3 linked regions of the Homo sapiens genome follow. The protein of the gene in region 3 purifies or fractionates together with the protein of the main gene of each other region. This does not show direct contact. Each region holds a gene or a part of one and is shown on either strand. Other genes may lie near its edges.

The links.
Region 1: the proteins of OAT (region 3) and DLD purify together in Homo sapiens (affinity purification with mass spectrometry; 2 studies listed by BioGRID, with this or other methods). This does not show direct contact.
Region 2: the proteins of OAT (region 3) and GOT1 fractionate together in Homo sapiens (co-fractionation; 2 studies listed by BioGRID). This does not show direct contact.

The regions. Positions count from the first base shown.
Region 1 is NC_000007.14:107,914,766-107,922,183, reverse strand, and holds the end of DLD (dihydrolipoyl dehydrogenase, mitochondrial isoform 1 precursor), read right to left. Parts: intron 6,679-7,418; coding exon 6,488-6,678; intron 5,391-6,487; coding exon 5,220-5,390; intron 4,912-5,219; coding exon 4,722-4,911; intron 4,261-4,721; coding exon 4,123-4,260; intron 3,175-4,122; coding exon 3,085-3,174; intron 2,991-3,084; coding exon 2,925-2,990; 3' UTR 986-2,924; downstream 1-985. UniProt on the Homo sapiens protein: Lipoamide dehydrogenase is a component of the glycine cleavage system as well as an E3 component of three alpha-ketoacid dehydrogenase complexes (pyruvate-, alpha-ketoglutarate-, and branched-chain amino acid-dehydrogenase complex).
Region 2 is NC_000010.11:99,399,140-99,407,041, forward strand, and holds part of GOT1 (aspartate aminotransferase, cytoplasmic), read right to left. Parts: intron 7,711-7,902; coding exon 7,587-7,710; intron 7,111-7,586; coding exon 6,998-7,110; intron 6,722-6,997; coding exon 6,617-6,721; intron 4,736-6,616; coding exon 4,585-4,735; intron 4,496-4,584; coding exon 4,330-4,495; intron 3,584-4,329; coding exon 3,441-3,583; intron 1-3,440. UniProt on the Homo sapiens protein: Biosynthesis of L-glutamate from L-aspartate or L-cysteine. Important regulator of levels of glutamate, the major excitatory neurotransmitter of the vertebrate central nervous system. Acts as a scavenger of glutamate in brain neuroprotection.
Region 3 is NC_000010.11:124,395,901-124,401,923, forward strand, and holds the end of OAT (ornithine aminotransferase, mitochondrial isoform 1 precursor), read right to left. Parts: intron 5,940-6,023; coding exon 5,826-5,939; intron 5,085-5,825; coding exon 4,940-5,084; intron 2,203-4,939; coding exon 2,042-2,202; 3' UTR 1,403-2,041; downstream 1-1,402. UniProt on the Homo sapiens protein: Catalyzes the reversible interconversion of L-ornithine and 2-oxoglutarate to L-glutamate semialdehyde and L-glutamate.

The DNA.
Region 1 (7,418 bases), on a different chromosome or scaffold from region 3:
GGTATATACCCGAAGGATTATAAATCATTCTACTATAAAGACACATGCACATGTATGTTTATTGAGGCACTGTTCACAATAGCAAAGACTTGGAACCAACCCAAATGCCCATCTATGACAGAATGGATAAAGAAAATGTGGCACATATACACCATGGAATACTATGCAGCCATAATAAAGGATGAGTTCACATCCTTTGCAGGGACATGGATGAAGCTGGAAACCATCGTTCTCAGCAAACTAACACAAAAATAGAAAACCAAACACCACATGTTCTCACTTGTAAGTGGGAGGTGAACAATGAAAACACATGGACAAGGGGATGGGGGTGGGGGAGGGATAGCATTAAGAGAAATACCTAATGTAGATGATGGGTTGATGGGTGCAGCAAACCACCATGGCACATGTATACCTATGTAACAAACCTGCATGTTCTGCACATGTACCCCAGAACTTAATTAAAAAAAAAAATCCCAATAACTAGCAAAAATGGTCATACCCCATCATCTACTAGAGCAATTATGTAGTATTTTACTTAGAACAGTAGAAACACTCTCCATTCCTTTTCAGCTAAACAACTAAAGATCTCACTTTGAAATTACTTTTTTTTTTTTTTTGAGACGGAGTTTCGCTCTGTCGCCAGGCTAGAATGCAGTGGCATGATCTCAGCTCACCGCCTCCTGGGTTCAAGTGATTCTGCCTCAGCCTCCTGAGTAGTTGGGATTACAGGGGCCTGCCACCACACCTGGCTAATTTTTATATTTTTAGTAGAGATGGGGTTTTACCACATTGGTCAGGTTGGTCTCAAACTCCTGACCGCAGGTGATCTGCCCGCCCCGGCCTCCCAAAGTGCTGGGATTACAGGAGTGAGCCACCGCTCCCAGCCAGTTGAAATTACTAATTTTAATCAGTTCAATGAAGTGGACAATTAATTTCACTCTTCACAAGCCACAAAAATATTGACAGCTTAGTAGATAACAGTAAGTGAACACTTAAAACTTGTTTTATTCCTAGGACTTTATTCCCCATACAGATAAATTTGCATTCTCATACTGAATGTAAACACTTAAAGATGGATTTAACTCTACAGCTAGAATTCCATATTAAATTATATTTCACTATTCCCTAACTAAAAACTTTTTTTTCCCTGAGTAAGGGATATGTTGAGATTTACATAAACAGCACTTCACATGATACCGGGATTTCAAATTTTTAAAAAGATGCAGAGTTCACTTCCAATAATGGCAAAGTAGCACACAGATATCAGACCAACCCTCCTGCTGATAGCAACTGCAAACTCTGAACAAATATATTTTAGAAAAAACTAAAGGCACTGGAAACAACTATAAACAAGTGGAAAGTAGAGGGAAGTTGGCACTTAAAAAGTGAACAGCACTGGCTCAATGTCTCATTTTTAACGGGTTCTCACTTGAGGGGGAAACAAAAGCCAAGTTTTATTGGTTAAGGATCAGAAGGCAGAATATGGGGCAACCACAACAGCTGGAACATAAAGGGGAAACCCCCAAAAAACAGGAGGCACAGAAGGGGCAGACTTCCTTCTGCCCAAACTCTGGTTGACCCCTGAACTACACACTTGCATGGGAAAGACTTCCAGCAGCATAGCTAAAGCTAAAACAACTGAGAAGAGATTTCAGCTGCTGCCACCTACAAACAAGACAGAGTGTGGAGTTGGTGTTCAGCCAAGTTAACTGCCTCCTAAGACAACAATCAATTTTCTTTAGAAGTATGTAACAGAATCCAGGGTCATTATGTCACTCATGAGCATGAGACAATCTATGCTATCTATACCAAATTTCAGAACTACTTAATCTGAATTATTCTTAAATTTAGTTACAATATGCAAAAGCCTACTTAGCATTTAGTACTTTGTTACTTAAGTTTCCTCAGGACATGGCCATTTTAAACACCACACATCCAATTTTACAACACTCTTTAAATAAACAGTCATTAACCCAGCCAAGGAAAACACAGATTAAAGACTCCCTTATGTTGTACTTCTCCAAAAGTATATATTAAACATTTAGTAGGTGTATCTAAAATAGATGAAAGGATGATGACCTTTAAAATGCCTTAATATTGTCCTATAACATGAAAATAAAGATACATTCAGGCCTAGAAAAGAAATTAGAATATACACTAGAAGTAGTCATAAAAAAAACTATGACCATCTCAACACGTACTCATGATAACCAGTAAATGAATATTTAAGACGTTTATTTCAGTATCTTCATTCCCCACTGTAATACATTTGAATGCCCACGTATTTGAGTTCCGTAAATAGACTCTCTTAATTTGGGTAACTATATAATTACCCTTCAGAGTTGCAGACAACAATGGAAGCTTTAAAACCTCTTCAACACAAATGCTACCCCTAAAATGAAAGAATTTAGAGGTTAAATAAAACAAGTGAGAGACCGTTTACTTACATCAGTTCGGTTTATAGACATTTGAATCATATCTGAATGACTGACTTGTTTCCAATGTGAAAACCAAATTAAAAATAACTTGATCACTGTGCTTCAAACACAACTGTTCACATATCAAATTCTAGCTCCAGCCATGTAAAATTCAACTTTTCTGTATCAGAGAAAAAAGCTATTTAAATTCAGGGGCATTGAATCTTTCATGAACAGCATGAAAATATGAGTTGACGGAGATATTCCAGGATGCTACAATAAGTAGCTTTTTGTCTTACACATTAGTGCACTGAAACAAAATACTAAATTTATGTAAAATATAGATATAAGAGTATTCCATTTTGTCCAAACCTATTAAATACCTTCCAAAAGTTTCATAATTCAGTCCTAGAAATTCTTGGAGCTGTGAGAATATCCTGTTCAGGAATGTGACTTCTACAAAAGCTCCCAGGAAATTTCAGAAAAAAATATATATAATCTTCTAATTCAAAAGTTGATTGATTTGCCAAATGACGCAGCAAGATTTGCTTCTCTAAAAGCTTCTGATAAGGTCTGCAAGGGAAGAAATTTAAAATTAAAATCCAAATATTTGTGGGTCAGAAGAAAATTTAGGCAACCATCAATTCTATATGTTGTTAATAATTACCGGATGTGCATGACAGACTCTAGCTATATCTTCACAGGATGCTCCATATTCCAAAGCAAGAGCAGCTTCATTTACCATTTCTCCAGCACCCTTTAAAATAACAAGCCAAGTAAATTTGCTTCCAAGGCAAAAACTACATGCTAATAGGATAGCAATTGTTGAGGGGAAGCTTTTAGATCTTAAAAACGCCTTAAATCTGTTTCTTTATCAGTTGAAGAAAAGTCAGGAAAAGCTTAATAGAAAAGGTGACACAGAAGAGCTTGGGCTCTGGAGCCAAAGGGCCTTCAATTCATATCTACCACTTACTACCTTAACCATTCATTGGTTCTTTGTGCTTCATTCAGTTTCTTCACCTCAAAAATAACAGCACCTATTTCAAAAAGCTGATGTAAAAATAACAAAATGTATACTAAAGTGACACAGCACTCAAATATTCTATTCTCATTATTGTTACATCAGATACAAGAGATATCTACAAGAAAGATACATACTTTAGGCTCAGTGGTAGGAAAGGCTTCCCTTAGGAGGTAACATTTGAGCTGAGACCTGAATAATAAGGAGCCAGCCATTCAAAGATCTGGAGGCAGAACAGTCTAAGCAGAGGGTATCTTAAGCACAAAGGCCCTAAAATGCAAATATTTGGTCTGTTGTGAAAATGAGAGAAGGCCCATGTGACATGGCATTAATGAGTAAAAGAGAGCAGAAAAAGAAGAGGTCAGAGAAGTAGGCACAAACAGATTCAGTGAGGCCTTGGATGTAACAATCTGAAGTTGAAAAGCACCACTGGAGGATTTTAAGGGGCATAATCTGGTGTATGTTTTAAAGAGAGAATCTTGGCTGCAGGACAAAGTAGATGATACAGTGGGCAAGACTGTGAGAGTGCTGCTGGTATCCTTCTAGAAATGATGCACAGAGAGCCATATTCAAAGTTTTGCTGGAAATGAGCAACCTCAGACTAACACCAGGTGGTTTATAATTAATAAACAGCAATGCTTTCTAGAAATCTTAATGGGATTTCTCTGGTTTTACAATACTCACTGGTCCAAGAATATGTGCTCCCAGTACTCTGTCTGTCGATTTCTGCCCAAGGATCTTCACCATGCCATCTGTGTCAGCATTTGTCTTAGCTCTGCTGTTAGCAGCAAATGGGAATTTCCCAACTTTGTACTCAATACCCTGTGACAGTCAGAAAAAAAGAATCTACGTAACTGCCAGAAAAGTTCTTTCCAATTTGTAAAATCATCTACCATTTGTTCAGAAAATAAATCCCAAGAAGGGAATTGTTCGCAAAGCACATAGAAGGAAAGGAAAGACCAGAAGACTGGTTAATGAACTATATCTCAGGCACGAATACAAGCAAATACAAATGTCTGTCCATCTGGTTATATTTCAAAGCCAAATATAAAAGATCTGGAATTACTAGTTTTTTAATATAGGCAACTTCTCTTCCTCTCAATTACTGCTGATAAATCTGTGAATGATCTCTTTATAATGCTAACAAGGGAAAAATATATAAGCTAAACAATATTTCACAGCTGTTAAATATATTAGCATAATGATAAAATGCTGTTTCTCAACCACCAATGTCATTGGCACAACTCACACATTGGCTTAAAACCACCCATGTTCAGACTTACCTCTTCTTTCAACTGCTCTTCTGATTTGCCAACCCAAGCAACTTCAGGGTGTGTGTAAATCACTGATGGCACACAATTGTAGTCAATGTGCACAGCACCACCAGCCATTCCTTCAACACAGATAATGCCTTCATCCTCTGCTTTGTGAGCCAGCATTGGACCAGCAACTACATCACCAATGGCATAGATACTACCACAGAAATCAAAAGAAACACAATGAATTTCTGAAATCACAGCTACTTACCTTCAGTTACATTATGGTAACAAAAGTTTCCAGTAAACAAGTCACCAAAAAATACATCAAATGCAGCTCTTCAAAAATCTATGAATTCAGCTTATCTTTGAGTAAAATTCAGTTATTTTTTATTTTACATTTTGTAAGTTTACTATTCTTCCCCAAAGCCAATACATATTTTAAGCATAAAAATCTTACTTTTCAAAATACTGTTTGAAATCAATTTTAAAATTACTGAAAATGCAGACAATTATCCAACTTACTTTGGAATTTTAGTTTGAAATCTGGTATTGACTGGAATTCTACCTCTGGGATCTAGTTCAATTCCCAGCTCTTCTAGTCCCAAATTCTTAGTAAAGGGTCGTCGGCCAATGCAAACCAAGAGTACATCACAAGTGATAACTTCAGCTTTACCACCAGAAGCAGCTTCAATACTAGATAACAAACAGTGTATAAATGTTAAATACACACCTACATAAATTGATAGGCTTAGAAATTTAAGGCCAGCAATTTCTCAAGTGTTGATGACATTTTCATTTTTGTTTTGTTTTGTTTTTGAGACAGAGTCTTGCTCTGTCGCCAGACTGGAGTACAGTGGTGCAATCTCGGCTCACTGCAACCTCCACCTCCCAGGTTCCAGAGATTCTCCTGCCTCAGCCTCCCTAGTAGCTGGGACTACAGGCACGCGCCACCACGCCCAGCTAATTTTTGTATTTTTAGTAGAGACGGGGTTTCACCATGTTGCCAGGCTGGTCTTGATCTCTTGACTTCATGATCTGCCCATCTCAGCCTCCCAAAATGCTGGGATTACAGGTGTGAGCCACCATGCCCAGCCGGCACTGATGACATTTTTAACAATATAAGTTTATTTGAATATAAACATAAGAGTCAGACAATGAAAGAGATCTATCATTAAAATCTAGAGGTCTGTTATTAAAATCTCACAAAAACCACAGTATAATAAAACAGCAGTTAAGAATACAGGTCTTTGAGTCACAGAAATCCAAATTCAACTACTGACTGCCACCCACTAGCTGTGTGACAAGTTAGTCATTAATTAGTCAATGAATTCAGCTTCTTATCTTTGAGTAAAAGTCATTAAACTATTTAAATACTATTAACTATTTAATTTAAATATTTATTTAAAAACTAATTCAATAAGTTAAATGCCATTAAAGTATTTAATCAGTAGAGTACCAGACATATAGTAAGCAATCTTTTATTATTGATTTCCCCATGTATCTGCCTAAAAATATTGATTCAATTTTACTTATTATTGGGAATTTAAATTTTTCTGAATGTACTATAAGAAGGCACAACAATGAGAATATTGGATTCTCTTTCTAGCATTAACCTAATCATAAATTTCAATGTGCTAATGCAATAATTTGATAAGCAACTGAGTTATATTAAGTAATAAAATGACCTTAAGTTAGAAAAAACCCTATATTTGCTAAACTGATTTTGAAACTTGAGTGTTTTGCTTAAAGAGACAGGGATGATACATCAAAAACAAATGATGTATACTTACGAAACATCAATTTTTCCATCTGACTTCTTGGTAGCACCAGTAACCTTTGTATTCAATTTAAATTTAAACCCCTGTTTTTGAAGGATGCGTTGAAAGTTTTTAGATATCTCCATATCAATTCCAACTCCACCTACATGACCTAAAAATTCAACTGCTGTCACATCTGCACCAAGTCTTTGCCAAACTGAACCCTGCAAATAAATTAAAAAAACCCAATAATCATAAAAGTTTCTATAGCAAATGTTTACGAAATCATCTTAATAATTTATTGTAAAACATTTTCTTCTTTCGCTAGTATGTTCCTATGAGAAGCTCCGAGGTTTAAAATTGACCCTGTGTTAAATATGTATAACTTCATACATTTATTAACTTACTCATTCAACATTTGTTGAACATCTACTACATGGTAGGCAATATTTTAGCTTCTAGGCATACATTAGTAAACAAAGCAAAAATCTCTGTTCTCAGGGATCTTATATTCTGGCAGGGGACATAGACAAATATGTAAAATTCATAACAGAGAATAAAGTGCTACAGGAAAAATAAAACAGGAAGTAGAACTAGGACCACTGATTACTGGGATTACAATTTTAAATAGCACGTTTGGGGAAAGCCTCACTGGGAGTGACATTTGCACAAAACTTGAAGGAGTGAGGCAATGAACTACCCAGTTAACTGGGGCAAGAGTGTTGCTCTAGGCAGAGGGAAACAGCAAGTACAAAAGTCTTGAGGAAAAGGAAACAGGTTACTAAATCACTGATGTTTGCAGAATATTAAACTGGCTTCCTATTTTCTTTTCTCAACAAAGGACAAATGTTTACTTTTTCATTCAAATTATAATTTAAACTGAATGCTAGTTTATTTTAACATTTTGACAATTAGTATAACTTCTAAATAATTATATATTAAACAATACATAACTGGCAAGATG
Region 2 (7,902 bases), about 25 Mb from region 3:
GTATCTGTAGAGAAAATCTGCATGGCTGCAGCTAGGCTTTCTCTGAGGCCCTCCCTTGTCCAGATCTAGGGGAGATTAACTGAGAGTGTGATGCCTTTAAAGGTCTAAAAGAAATAGACCTTTACCGCTATTTTCTCCGAGGGCTGCTACCTGTCTTATCTACATAATATAACAAGACCACCTTTGCTAACCAGGCCTTCTCTTCTCTGCCTGCCATAATCTGTTCTGGCAAGCTCCAAGCTCCCATTCTTTCTATAACCCCAAGATGGTATAAAAGCATCAATCATCTGGCCATTTATTTGAGTTCTATTTTGTAAGACACCTGTGCAAGTTAATAAATTTGCATGCTGGCCAGGCACAGTGGCTCATGCCTGTAATCCAAGTACTTTGGGAGGCTGAGGAGGGAGGATTGCTTGAGCCCAGGAGTTGACGACCAGCCTGGGCATCATAAGGAGACCCTGTCTCTACAAAAAAATCTTAAAAATTAGCCGGGCATGGTGGCACACACCTGTGGTCCCAGGTACTACGAAGGCTGAGGTGGGTGGATTGCTTGGGCCTGGGAGGTTGAGGCTACAGTAAGCCATGATTGTGACGCCGCACTCCAGCCTGGGCAACAGAGTGAGACTCTGACTCAAAAATAAATAAATAAATTTGTATGCCTTTTCTCCTATTAATCTGCCTCTTGTCAGCTGATTTCCAGCAAACTTTCAGAGGGCAAAGGGTAAGTTTTCCCTTGACCCCTCCAAACCAGTGAACAAAGAAAGCAAGCTTAAGAAGAGGTTTACCTGTGTGAATTGGTCACCCAAGGGGATAGAGCCTCAAGCCAACACAGCCCTGGGTGTGCCACTCTTTCTAAAAGCCTGTGCCCTGAGGCAGTGATTAAATGACTCCTACCCTGGCTTTTGGTTTTGTTTTAGTAAAAATGAGGCCTTTCTACTTTTTCAGAGAAGGGAAGTGTCACAGTTTGAAAAGCTAGTAAAAGTTATGGACTCTTTCCCTAGAGCAGGGCCAAAATACACATATACAATTTTTTAAACATCATTTCAGGGGCTTCACAGTTCTCCTAAACGTACATCCAGGGATTCCAGGTTAAAAGCCCCATTCTGACAGAAAAAAGATAACAAAGGAAGTATTGTAATGTGAGAATTGTAGAAACTAGGTGGCGGATATATAGGGGTTCACTGTACAATTCCTCCAACTTTTCTGTATGTTTAAAACTTTTCTGGCCAGGTGCAGTGGCTCATGCCTGTAATCCCAGCACCTTGGGAGACCGAGGCGGGCAGATCACTTGAGCTCAGGAGTTTGAGACCAGCCTGAGCAATATGGTGAGACCCCGTTTCTACAAAAAATTAGCCGGGCATGGTGGTTCACGCCTGTGGTCCCAGCCACTTGGACACTGAGGTGGAATGATCACCTGAGCCCAGGGGGCAGAAGTTGCAGTGGCCCGAGATTGCACCGCTGTACTCCACCCTGGGTGACAGAGCGAGACCGTGTCTGAAACAAACAAACAAACAAAAAAGGCCAGGCACAGTGGCTCACGCCTGTAATCCCAGCACTGTGGGAGGCCAAGGCAGGTAGATCACTTAAGGTCAGGAGTTTGAGACCAGCCTGGTCAACATGGTGAAACCCTGTCTCTACTAAAAATACAAAAATTAGCTGGGTGTGGTGGCTCATGCCTGTAGTCCCAGCTACTTGAGAGGCTGAGGCAGGAGAATCGCTTGAATCCAGGAGGTGGAGGTTGCAGTGAGCCAAGATTGTGCCACTGCACTCCAGCCTGAGCAACAGAGCAAGACTCTGTCTCAAAAAGAAAAAAAAAGTTGGGAGGAAAACAAAACCCCTGTTTTTAATAAGGGCAAATGATGCCAAGCGCTAAAAATATAACTTTTGTGTTATAAGCACAGTTCTATTCTCATCATTTTTCCAATTCGTGATATTAATAAAACTAATTTCCTCCTGTGGATAATGGGAAGATATGGATATTTTACAGGGAGACATTCCCATATTGTGAGCTTTTAGACTATTACTACTAAAGACTATTAATATTTCTGTTACATGTAATATTTTTATAATTGTGAGTGAACTAATTCTCTGTTCCTCAGTCAAGAGGACATCTACAGCTAACTGAGCTATTTCTTTACTTTCTTAGGTAGCTTCATTTTACCCCAAAGTATTTTGAGGGGTCCACAATACAAGCTCTATTAACTGCCATTTATATTTATTTCCTTTGGATTTTTCTGAGCCCACTTCACACTGGCACTGTGATGGCCCCAGTTAAATACCTCCCCACGGCCTCTGCCGTTCTGCCTACAAACCAAGCCAGCCACACATCCCTCCCTAGAGTCACTGGGACACACAGGTGAGTCGCCACATCTGCACTGTGGGAATTACTAAAGAAATGACGCCTGTAATCTCAGCTACTCGGGAGGCTGAGGCAGGAGAATAACCTGAAGCCGGGAGGCGGAGGTTGCAGTGAGTCGAGATCACACCACTGCACTCCAGCCTGGGCAACAGAGCAAGACTCCATCTCAAAAAAAAAAAGAAGAAATGACTCTTCTGTCATCAGATGGGACTGCAGATGGCAGATGTGCCCTACTGACAATTGACCAAGACCATGCATGACCACCTACTAGATTTTCAATCAGCTTTTAATTCCAACCACCAATCTAGGTTCTTTTCTTTTTTTTTTGAGACGGAGTCTCGCTCTGTCGCCCAGGCTGGAGTGCAGTGGTGCGGTCTCGACTCACTGCAAGCTCTGCCTCCTGGATTCAAGTGATTCTCCTGCCTCAGTCTCCCTAGTAGCTGGGACTACAGGCGCCTGCCACCACGCCCGGCTAATTTTTTTGTATTTTTAATAGACACGGGGTTTCACCATGTTAGCCAGGATGGTCTTGATCTCCTGATCTCGTGATCTGCCCACCTCAGCCTCCCAAAGTGTTGGGATTACAGGTGTGAGCCACTGTGCCCAGCCCAATCTAGGTTCTTGTTTATGAAATGCAGAGATAACTTTGTAATCTCTTTTTGAGGATAATACCTAGAAATAAGAAAGACCTGTCAAGAAATCAGTTCCCTGAATAATCATTATATTCAGGATTAAGGCAAACCCAAAATGTACCTGAGCATTTATAAGAACCTTTCATAAATTAAGGCTCCCAGCTACCAATCCTGTTACCTCCCAGCTGGCTCTGAGCCACTTCCCAGCCCACAAACACGGAAATATCTTGGCTGTGGGTCAGCAGGGCAGACCACAATACTCTTCTGAGACCCAGAGAGTTTATGAGATGGTGGGACACCCTAAGAAAACCTAACTTGTCCTGGTCCAAAGCAATGGCTGCCCAATTAGGCAAAGGCTGTGAAAGTGAGCTCAGCTCAAGGCGAGCGACTGAAAGGAATGTTGTGTGTCTACATGCACGCATGGGCTGGAGGTGGTGGGGGCCACTTACGGTTCAACCCAGTGAAGCTGAACATGCCAATTTGATCAGTGATGTGGTTCCAGGTCCCAGGGGTTTTGAGGGCTTCTAGTCGTGCCCTGAGTTCAGATCTCATGGTCAGAATCCGGTCAGCCATTGTCTTCACATTACCTGTCCTGAAGCATGGACAGTGACGTAAATACCAATCCAGACAGGAAAGATGGTACCCGAAAACACACAGGTTTAAAAACTCTAATTTAAACGACAGCTGACAATGGGATCATAACCTGCCTATTATGGCATGTGGATGTCTGGATGGGTGGATTAACATACCAGAGAGAGAGACTTAGGGGGCAGAAGGAAAGGACTGCATTTACTAGTGAGTCTAGTGCTAGTCTTGGGTATACTGGCTAGAATACACTCACATTTCAACTCAGGCTTCACCGAGGTGCTGCTATAGATATTAATAGGGCAATATGTTTCATCAGGACTTACTAAATAAAGATTGCAGATTTAGCTACTATATAAAAATTACTGTTCTAAAATAAGATAAAGTGTATGTAAATTACAGATAAAAACCAAGAGCTCCCAAACTGTTAAACTGCCTAGACGTTCGATATTCTATTTTGCTGGGAATACCTTCTTGGGTTTTCCAACTTCATGGAGAGGAAGACTGGGTGGGGGGGGAAATTGGGGAAAACTACCATTCATCGAGTGCCCCCTCCTGTCTTCCAGGTGTTGTGTTATGCACGTGTGAGGTAGATATCAGCCCCTGTTTTACAAATATCTGAGAGTCAAAGAAGTTAAAGTAATTTTATCCTGCTTCTGCCAAAATGAAAGGAAGAGACCCAGTTAAATGTACTGGGACAATTACTGTTCTGCACTCCCCACCCCCCGGCCCACCAGACTGGGAGCCCCTTACCATTCCTCAAAGAGCTCAGGGTTAGAGAGGGTGCTGGCCACAATTCGTGCTCCCTGGGCGGGGGGATTGGACCAAGTAATCCGCACGATCTTCTCCATCTGGGAAAGGACTTGCAGGATGCTCTCAGGTTCTTTTCCAACCACAGTCAGATTCCCGACTCTCTCATCTAAAGAGAGGGACCAGAATCAGCTGTGGCTGCTGAAGCAGGGAGTGATGCGAGGAGGTGGGGCTGTAACTCCTCAGGAGAGCACTCACTGTAGAGCCCGAAGTTCTTGGAGAAGGACTGGGCACAGAAGAACTCGAAGCCTTCAGACACAAAATAGCGAATGGCCCAGGCATCTCTCTCCAGGTTTCCAGATGCGAAGCCCTGATAGGCTGAGTCAAAGAAGGGGAACAGAAACCGGTGCTGCGGGGAAGCAAAGTGAGTCAGGGCAGGAAATCCTTCTGGCACCAACCTCAGACACCGGCCTTCCTTCCCCAGCTGATGCCTGGAGGGAATTTCAAATGCTGTCCATTTCTCCTATTTCTTGACTATATGCACCCAAGCTCCACTTTACATCCATTTCTCTCTACAACCAACAAGTGTAACCTTTTCCGTAAACTTTACTTTTTAAAAGTAAATTGTCCTAGAGTGTCCCAATTCAGCTTAGAGAAACAGGGCTTACTTTTGATGCAAGGAGACAATGTCCTACATTGTGGATTTTCCTCTGTGAATTTCTGGCGTGAGAGCCTTAGTCAAGTGTAGGCTTGGTATCCCCAGGGCTCCTCATGGGCTATTCTGCTAGGTACTCAAGAGGAAGGGAACAGAGTAGCCTCCATTCCTGTCACTCATCTCCTCAAAGAGCTCTCCACAGGGAACCTGCTTCTACAGCTGTGCTCTCTGAGTGGACACCACTTCCCTCCCCGGAACTGTCCAAATCTTTGGTTGTACTTTGATTCCCATCTCTTAGGTTTATCTTGACTAGGTGGGACTGGGGGGAATCTGGACTCCTAACTCTGCAGCTCATCCCCCACATCCTGGCACTCCCCAAGTCTCATCAGTCCTGTCTCTTCAGAGCTCCCAAATCCTTTTGCATCTCACTGTCCCCACTGCTACCTACTTCATCCAGGTCACCATCAACTCCTACCTGGGCTATGGCAATGGTCTCCTAACTGCTCCCACGGCCTGTCTAGTCTTGCCTCTCTCTGACCCATTCCCTGCTATGACATCAGGGTGGCCTTAAGACCATGCACATCCAATCATGTCACTCCCCGACATCCAAGATTTCAGTGGCTCCGCACTGCCCTGAGAATAAAGTCCAAGCCTCAGCACAGACCCTGCCCCTATTCACTCTAGCCTCATCACTCACACTCCCCATGATGTCTGCCTGGGGCTTCTGACCATGCTCCGTCCTCTGCAGAGCACATCCCTTCCCTGTCAACCCCTGTCTGCTGATGCCTTCTTAGCTCCTCCCCATCCTACAGGACTCAACATAGAAACCACTGCTTCCAGGAAGGTTCCTGCCACCAACCCGCCAACTCCCACATATACACTGCCCAAAGTCTGGGCTATGTACCCCCCTATAACACTGTCAACACAGCTATCTCACAGCATCACAGCTGCCTTAGTACTCGTCCATCTCCCCAAACAGGCTGTCTGTCTTTGAGGGTAGGGACTGCATCTGCTCCATTCAATAGTGTATTCCCACAGTGTCCAATACACAGCAGTTCCTTAATAAGTATTCTACAAACTCGTTAAGGAAGAATATACACACTTTCAGCTAGGAATTCCCACCTAGAAAGTTACGCCAAAGAAATAATAAAAGGAAATTTTGTTACATAATTTTTCATCAGATCAAGCAATCTGAAGTAAACCTAAATATTCATCAGATGATTTACCCCATCCCTAATATGACATATCCATGAAAGAAATATAATATAGCTATGAAAAATGATGCTGCAAAATATTCAATGACATGTATATAAAGAAGTGAAAATGAAAAACAAATTGTGTTGCACAAAACAGTACAGACAAAATGATCTCATCTTTGTAAAACATATACATAAAACTAGACACACACACACACACACACACACACACACACACACACAGTCTGACATTCTATCTACCAAAACATTAACAGTATCTTTCTTTAGGTAATAAAATTTACAGTTAATACTTATTTTCTTCTTTGGACTTTTCTCCATTTTCCTAATTCCTCAGCAAACAGCAAACAGGTATTGCTTCTACATACATTAAATAAGAATATATACTATTTTTTAAGAGATGCTCTGAAGGGGCAGTTACCTTCATGACAGAAGCAATCTGCTTCCACTGCTCCGGAGTTGGGTCAATCCCAGTTGGGTTGTGTGCACAGGCGTGGAGGACAACAATGGAGAACTCAGGAGCATTCTGAGGAGAAGGAAGCTATGTCAGCTCTGACACTGATGGGAATATTGGGAGACAGAGTCAGCAGCAGATTGGTCAGTGATGGAGGGCAAAGGGCAACCATATTCTTGTCACTCTTTCATGTCTCTTTTGTGCCCTCTCTCTTACATGCTATGTCAGAAACCACCATCAGGTATGGGGAAGGTGTCTCAGACTCCTTCACTTAGCAACTGGTCCAAAGACTTTGCCTGAGATTCCTGACACCATGCAATTCTCTACTTTTTCCTCTAAATCACCCACCTCCAGATCATTCAGGAAGCCCTGGAGGTCCAATCCTCTCTTCTCTGCATCCCAGTAGCGATAGGACCGAATGTCTTTAAAACCAGCAGCGGAAAACACAGCATTGTGATTCTCTGCATGCAAAGAAGTAAAAAGTTAAGCACTTTACAAACACTAGGAGGCATGAGTGGAAAGGATGCAAGTCAGCTTCCAGGGCCCTCCCAGGCTCAATGTCCACTGGGCATCATCCAGGCTGGGGGTTAAGATGTAGAGGAATGATTGTAACCAAGAACAAGTTCAACCAGTCACATTAATGCCAGACTTATATTCTACTACAATGATACTTCCTGCATCTACATTCTATGCCTCCTCTGGGGAGTTTCAACATAGCCTTGGTAGATACAAGTCTACTAAGAGTCTTGAGAAAGAGTATTCTTAACTTGATTTTGAGCAGCAGGTTTCTCATGCACTGCCATAACCCACTGTTCAAGCCATTCCCAACAGTCAGTTGTTCTAGGGCTGGATTACATTTTCTGTGTAACCAGGGAGAGTCATGAGGATAATTCTCTCTGGTTTCTGTTTTTCCTCTCACTTCAGCTGAAAGACTCACCCCAGGTTGGTGAGGACACATAGACAGGTGTGTTCTTGTTGTTTGTTCCATTGTACCAACGCGCTAAGAAATCAGCTCCAATTCGAAGTGCACCTGTTCCCCCCAAAGATTGCACACCTCCTACCTGAAAGAGAAGAAACAGGGTCACAGGCTGATAATGGTGAGGTCAGATAATATTTACAAAAATAAGGTAATAATGAGCACTTACTCTATGCCTGCTCTGTGCTAAGGCTTTTAATTGTATTATCTCATCAAAACCTTACAACTACTACATGAAAAAGGTACTATGATTTGCCCATGTTTACAACTGAGGAAA
Region 3 (6,023 bases):
TAGGAGGCCGAGGTGGGTGGATCACCTGAGGTCAGGAGTTCGAGACCAGCCTGACCAACATGGTGAAACCCCATCTGTACTAAAAATACAAAAATTAGCTGGGCATGGTGGTGTAGGCCTATTGTCCCAGCTACTTGGGAGGCTGAGGCACAAGAATCATTTGAACCTGGGAGGCGGAGGTTGCAGTGAGCTGAGATCACGCCATTGCATTCCAGCCTAGGCAACAGAGCAAGACTCTGTCTCAAAAAAAAAAAAGGAATACAAAAAAAAGAAAACACATGGAATAAATAAATCTCAAAAAGCTTAAAAATGTAACTGATAGGCTGGGCGCAGTGGCTCACGCCTGTAATCCCAGCACTTTGGGAGGCCGAGGCAGGTGGATCACAAAGTCAGGAGATCAAGACCATCCTGGCTAACACAGTGAAACCCCATCTCTACTAAAAATACAAAAAATTAGCCGGGCGTGGTGGCGGGCATCTATAGTCCTAGCTACTGGGGAGGCTGAGGCAGGAGAATGGCGTGAACACAGGACACGGAGCTTGCAGTGAGCCGAGATTGCGCCACTGCACTCCAGCCTGGGCAACAGAGCAAGACTCCATCTCAAAAAAAAAAAAAAATGTAACTGATAACACTGCAGTAATAGCATAGTGACATGGGGAATAAAGAAATCTTGTAACTGAAGAACGTGAGCCCCTTTAAATTATCAGGCCCAGGCCAGGCACAGGGGCTGATGCCTGTAATCCCAGCACTTTAGGAGGCCAAGTTGGGGGGATCGCCTGAGGCCAGAAGTTCAAGACCAGCCTGGTCAACTTAATGAAACCCTATCTTTACTAAAAATACTAAAATTAGCTGGGTGTGGTGGTGCACACCTGTAATCCCAGCTATTCGGGAGGCCGAGACAGGAGAATCATGTGAGCCCAGGAGGTGGAGGTTGCAGTGAGCTGAGATCGTGCCACTGCACTGCAGCCTGGGCGACAGAGAGAGACTCCATCTCAAAAAATAAAAACTAAATTATCAGGCCCAGAGAGGCAATAGAATGAAATCATAGTCAGGTCACTCTCTCCCAAGCTACATAATTACCTCTTGAAGCCAAGTATCTATCAAATGCCATATACCCTGTAGTTCAACAGCATATAGCCAATCACTAACCAAGGTTAGTTCTGTAAGCCAATGAGAATTCCTGATAAACAACTTTTGTAATCACCCCTTCACCTTGTGTCAGTAGAGGGTATAAGAGCAGCTGATCTATCCTTTTTTCTTTAAGAAGTGTTCTCTGGAGCACTCTCCAGGGCAACCTGGAAGTGTGTCCCGAGCTGCAGTCCCCAACCTTGGCCCACCTAAACATTCTATATTAATTTTGCCTCAGCTTCTTCCTTTTAAGGTGAATAATCATCACAAAACAGACATTTGAAATATAAGCTTTATTTTAAATTTAAAGAAGTATTGAAAATAAACATTTTTTACAAATTATAATCAAGCACTCAAAACAATTTAGGAATGTTAAACACTAATTCTTAATTCAAAATAATGACATCCATAGAATACAACCCTGGTGTTGGCCAATATGAAGTTTACTTAATATTAGTATTTTATATACACTTAACCATTAATCCTTCCTAAAATTCAATAACAATGATTTCACTTTATAAGATGAAGCCTTTTATGCAATACCCAGAGATAACTTTTTCAAATATGAAACACTTATACCAGTGAGGAAATTATAAAAACATATATCAATTATACTGAAGGACTTGATTTAGAGGCTGTCTGTATATAGATGCATTTCACCTTAGGAAGTACACATGCACATCAAAACACTTCAACTGAATATAGATGCCATTACATTATTTAGTTACGTTACAAAGCAAACGGCAGGTTCATAAACGTTGTTCTATTATGTATCAACTGAAAAAAATATATTCAAAAAAAAAGTTTTTGAAGACTCATGGGAGTGGAATGTGCCCACATTAGGAATAAAGCTTTTACAGGACCACCTGTCTCCAGCTGGCTCCCAGGGACCACTGAAAACAGCTGGCTACCCTCAGAAAGACAAGATGGTCTTGTTAATAATTTCAATGGACTCTCGAAGCTCATCCTCCTTGATCACCAGCGGAGGCGCAAACCTGATAATGTCGCCATGGGTTGGCTTGGCCAGAAGTCCATTATCTCGAAGTCGTAGACACACCTTCCAAGCATCCCAATCTAAAGAAAAATAGTAAAACGTACATGCTCAAAGATAAACGTTTAAACATCCCTTGCCGTATGTATGGGCAAAGTGCAGCCTGGCAAAACAAAATTAACAGAACTTGCTCAACTAAGGGAAGCTTGGGCTGGGAGCGGTGGCTTATGCCTGTAATCCCAGCACTTTGGGAGGCCGAGGTGGGTGGATCACGAGGTCAAGAGATTGAAACCATCCTGGCCAACATTATGAAACCCGTCTCTACTAAAAATACAAAAATTAGCTGGGCATCATGGTGCGCACCTGTAGTCCCAGCTACTCGGGAGACTGAGGCAGGAGAATCGCTTGAACCAGGAGGCGGAGGCTGCAGTGAGCGGAGATCGCGCCACTGCACTCCAGCCTGGTGACAGAGCAAGACACCGTCTCAAAAAAAAAAGAAAGGGAAGCTTGGAGCTGCAAGCTTGCTTTGTTTTTACTCCTAAAAATGAAGTTACTCTTCACTTTTCAGCAAGCACATAACTAGGTTTGAATGATATGATTAGACATATCATAGTTTTTCATAAATGAAAAAGACCAAGCCAAAAAAAAAAAAAAAAATGTGCTAAGGCTGCTGTATTAATCACACAAGGAACTAATGCAAAAGAACTTGGGTATAGGCTGGATGCAGTGGCTCACACCTGTAATCCCAGCACTTTGGGAGGCCGAGGTGGGCAGATCATGAGGTCAAGAGATCGAGACCATCCTGGCCAACATGGTGAAACCCCATCTCTAATAAAAATACAAAAATTAGCCTGTCGTGGTGTGGCACATGCCTGTAGTCCCAGCTACTCAGGAGGCTGAGGCAGGAGAATCGCTTGAACCCAGGAAGTGGAGGTCGCAGTGAGCCAAGATCATGCCACTGTACTCCAGCCTGGCGACAGACACTCCAGCCCAACAGAGCAAGGCACTGTCTCAAAAAATAAAATAAATAAAATAAATAAAATTCTAAAAAAGAAAAAAAAGAACTTGGGTATGATACAGATGATTAACTGACATAAAATGGGCAATACTCAAAACCCAGTGAACACTACACATTCCAAAAAGGGACTCGCTTCCTGAGCTCAACATATTATAGCAGCGATTCTCAACCTGGCTGCACATCAGAATCACCTTAAAGGCTATTGCTAATGCCTGTGCCCCGTCCCAGATCCGTCAAATCAGAATCCCTGGGGTAAGGCCAGGCTTTGACTCATTTTTTTAAGAAGCTCCCCAGGTGATTCTTTTTTTTTTTTTTTTTTTTTTTTTGAGACGGAGTCTCACTCTGCCGCCCAGGCTGGAGTGCAGCGGCGCAATCTCAGCTCACTGCAAGCTCCACCTCCCAGGTTCAAGCGATTCTCCTGCCTCAGCCTCCTGAGTAGCTGGGACTACAGGCACCCACCACCTCGCCTGGCTATTTTTTTGTATTTTTAGTAGAGATGGGGTTTCACTGTGTTAGCCAGGATGGTCTCGATCTCCTAACCTCGTGATCCACCCGTCTCGGCCTCCCAAAGTGCTGGGATTACAGGCATAAGACACCGCGCCCGGCCCCTCAGGTGATTCTTTAAGTGCAGCCAAGGTTGGGAGGTTGGAATCGTTGCTTTAAAAGGAAGAGTTATCACAAGAAAATCCAGCAAGGAACACCTAAGGGTTACAAAGGATGTACTAAAACATCAAACACCCAATTAAGTGACAGCCAGCATTATTTTTATTATTGACCCCATAACTGTCATTCATATCATTATTTCTGCTGCTCCTATAACCTCTACTGACACAAAGCATCAAAGTGAGGGAGGGAAGGATAGCAAAGAGGACACTTTCAAGTCCAGACTCACCAACAAAAAAACTTGAACTCTCTAAATACTGCATGACTAATTTAAGGCAGAAAAATAAGTGTCTTAAAGGAACAAGGGTCAAATTGGTTAAATGTGCCTTCATTTAGAAAAGAGCTATATTTTTTATACTCTTAATATAATTATAAATCAGACAATAATCTGTCTAAAAGGTTTGGTCATTATGTCAGTCAGCAGTTTCAAACAGAACATCCCAACACCCAATTAAAATACCAAGTGTGGCCAGGAGCAGTGGCTCATGCCTGTCATCTCAGCACTTTCAGAGGCTGAGGCAGGCGGATCACGAGGTCAGGAGATCGAGACCACCCTGGCCAACATGGTGAAACCCCATCTCTACCAAAAATACAAAAATTAGCTGGGCGTGTTGGCACGTGCCTGTAATACCAGCTACTCGGGAGGCTGAGGCAGGAGAATCGCTTGAACCGGGGCATCGGAAGTTGCAGTCAGCCAAAATGGCGCCATTGCACTCCAGCCTGGCAACAGAGCAAGACTCCATCTTAAAAAAAAAAAAAAAAAAAAAGTGTGGCCGGGCGCGGTGGGCTCACGCCTATAATCCCAACACTTTGGGAGGCCAACGCAGGTGGATCACGAGGTCAGGAGTTTGAGATCAGCCTGGCCAACATTATGAAACCCCATCTCTATTAAAAATATAAAGATTAGCTGGGCGTGGTGACAGGCGCCTGTAATCCCAGCTACTCAGGAGGCTGAGGCAGAGAATTGCTTGAACCCAGGAGGCAGAGTGCAGTGAGCCAAGATTGCGCCACGGCACTGCAGCCTAGGAGACAGAGCAAGACTCCGTCTCGAAAAATAAATAAATTAATTAAATTAAATACCAAGTGTATTTTAGGTCTTCCTTAAAAAATTATCTTGAGTAAATGTTTTATCTCCATACCTTTGGTTTCTTTAATGACAATAGCGTTTAATAATCCTTTTCCTCTTACGGCAGTTACAACATCAGAAGGTAGCTTCATGAGTTCATTTCTCAAGATAATGCCCAATTTGTCTGCATTTTCAGCAAGGTTTTCTTCTTCTAAAACCTACGTTTAAAGAAAAATTATACAAATATTAAGACTGTCCTTTTTTTGTTTTTTGGAGGACAACGGGGACTGTAAACACAGGAAAAACATGACTAGATAAAATACCAGAGGAACTTAACTTTCATTGCTATTTTTCAAAGCCTGTATTAGTTTCTAATTAAACATACACTAGCTCAGAGTCTTGCTTTCATCACAAATCTATTGCCAATCATTCATGGCAAAATAAGGATTAAAGTTTATTTAATGCAACTCACATACTGTCATTAATTGAATACATCAATGGACGAAATGTAATTCCTAAACTGCAATAGTTTCTTCCCCCCTCACAAAGATCTGTCCTCAGAGATTACATAATAATTGTATACCTTCAGCAGGCACTTAAAAAATCAGTCTGAAAACATTATAAATCCACACTTGAAAGAAGACTTGCTTGCTAAGCAAAAAGACGGGTCTGGTAGGTGGGTCACAGTTGAGAGTTCTATGAGGGCCAGCCAGGGCCGAAGAACTCAAAGCGCCAGGTGACTGTGAACTCAGGAAGCCCACGGAGGAAATCCAGTCTACTAGGCCAAGTTTAAATTACTTTTTGAGAATATCTTGTTCCTAAAATTTTTCCTCTATACTTCATGTTTTCTAATATTTGGCATTCTTATTGAATTTTTTATTATACCAGTGGGCCCAAATTAAAAATCACTTCAACATTGCTTTAAAGAATAGACACTGTGTGGCTGTATCAGTCTTTACCTCAAGGGCTGCGATGGCCACTCGGCAGCCTAGTGGATTGCCACCGTATGTGGACCCATGCTCCCCTGGCTTAATGGTCAGCATGATGTCATCATCACACAGCACTGCAGACACCTGAAAGACAGTCAATTCACCATGTCATTTCTCAGCACTAAGCATTCTACTAAGCATCCTTTTCCCCAGAGTCTCGCTGTCACC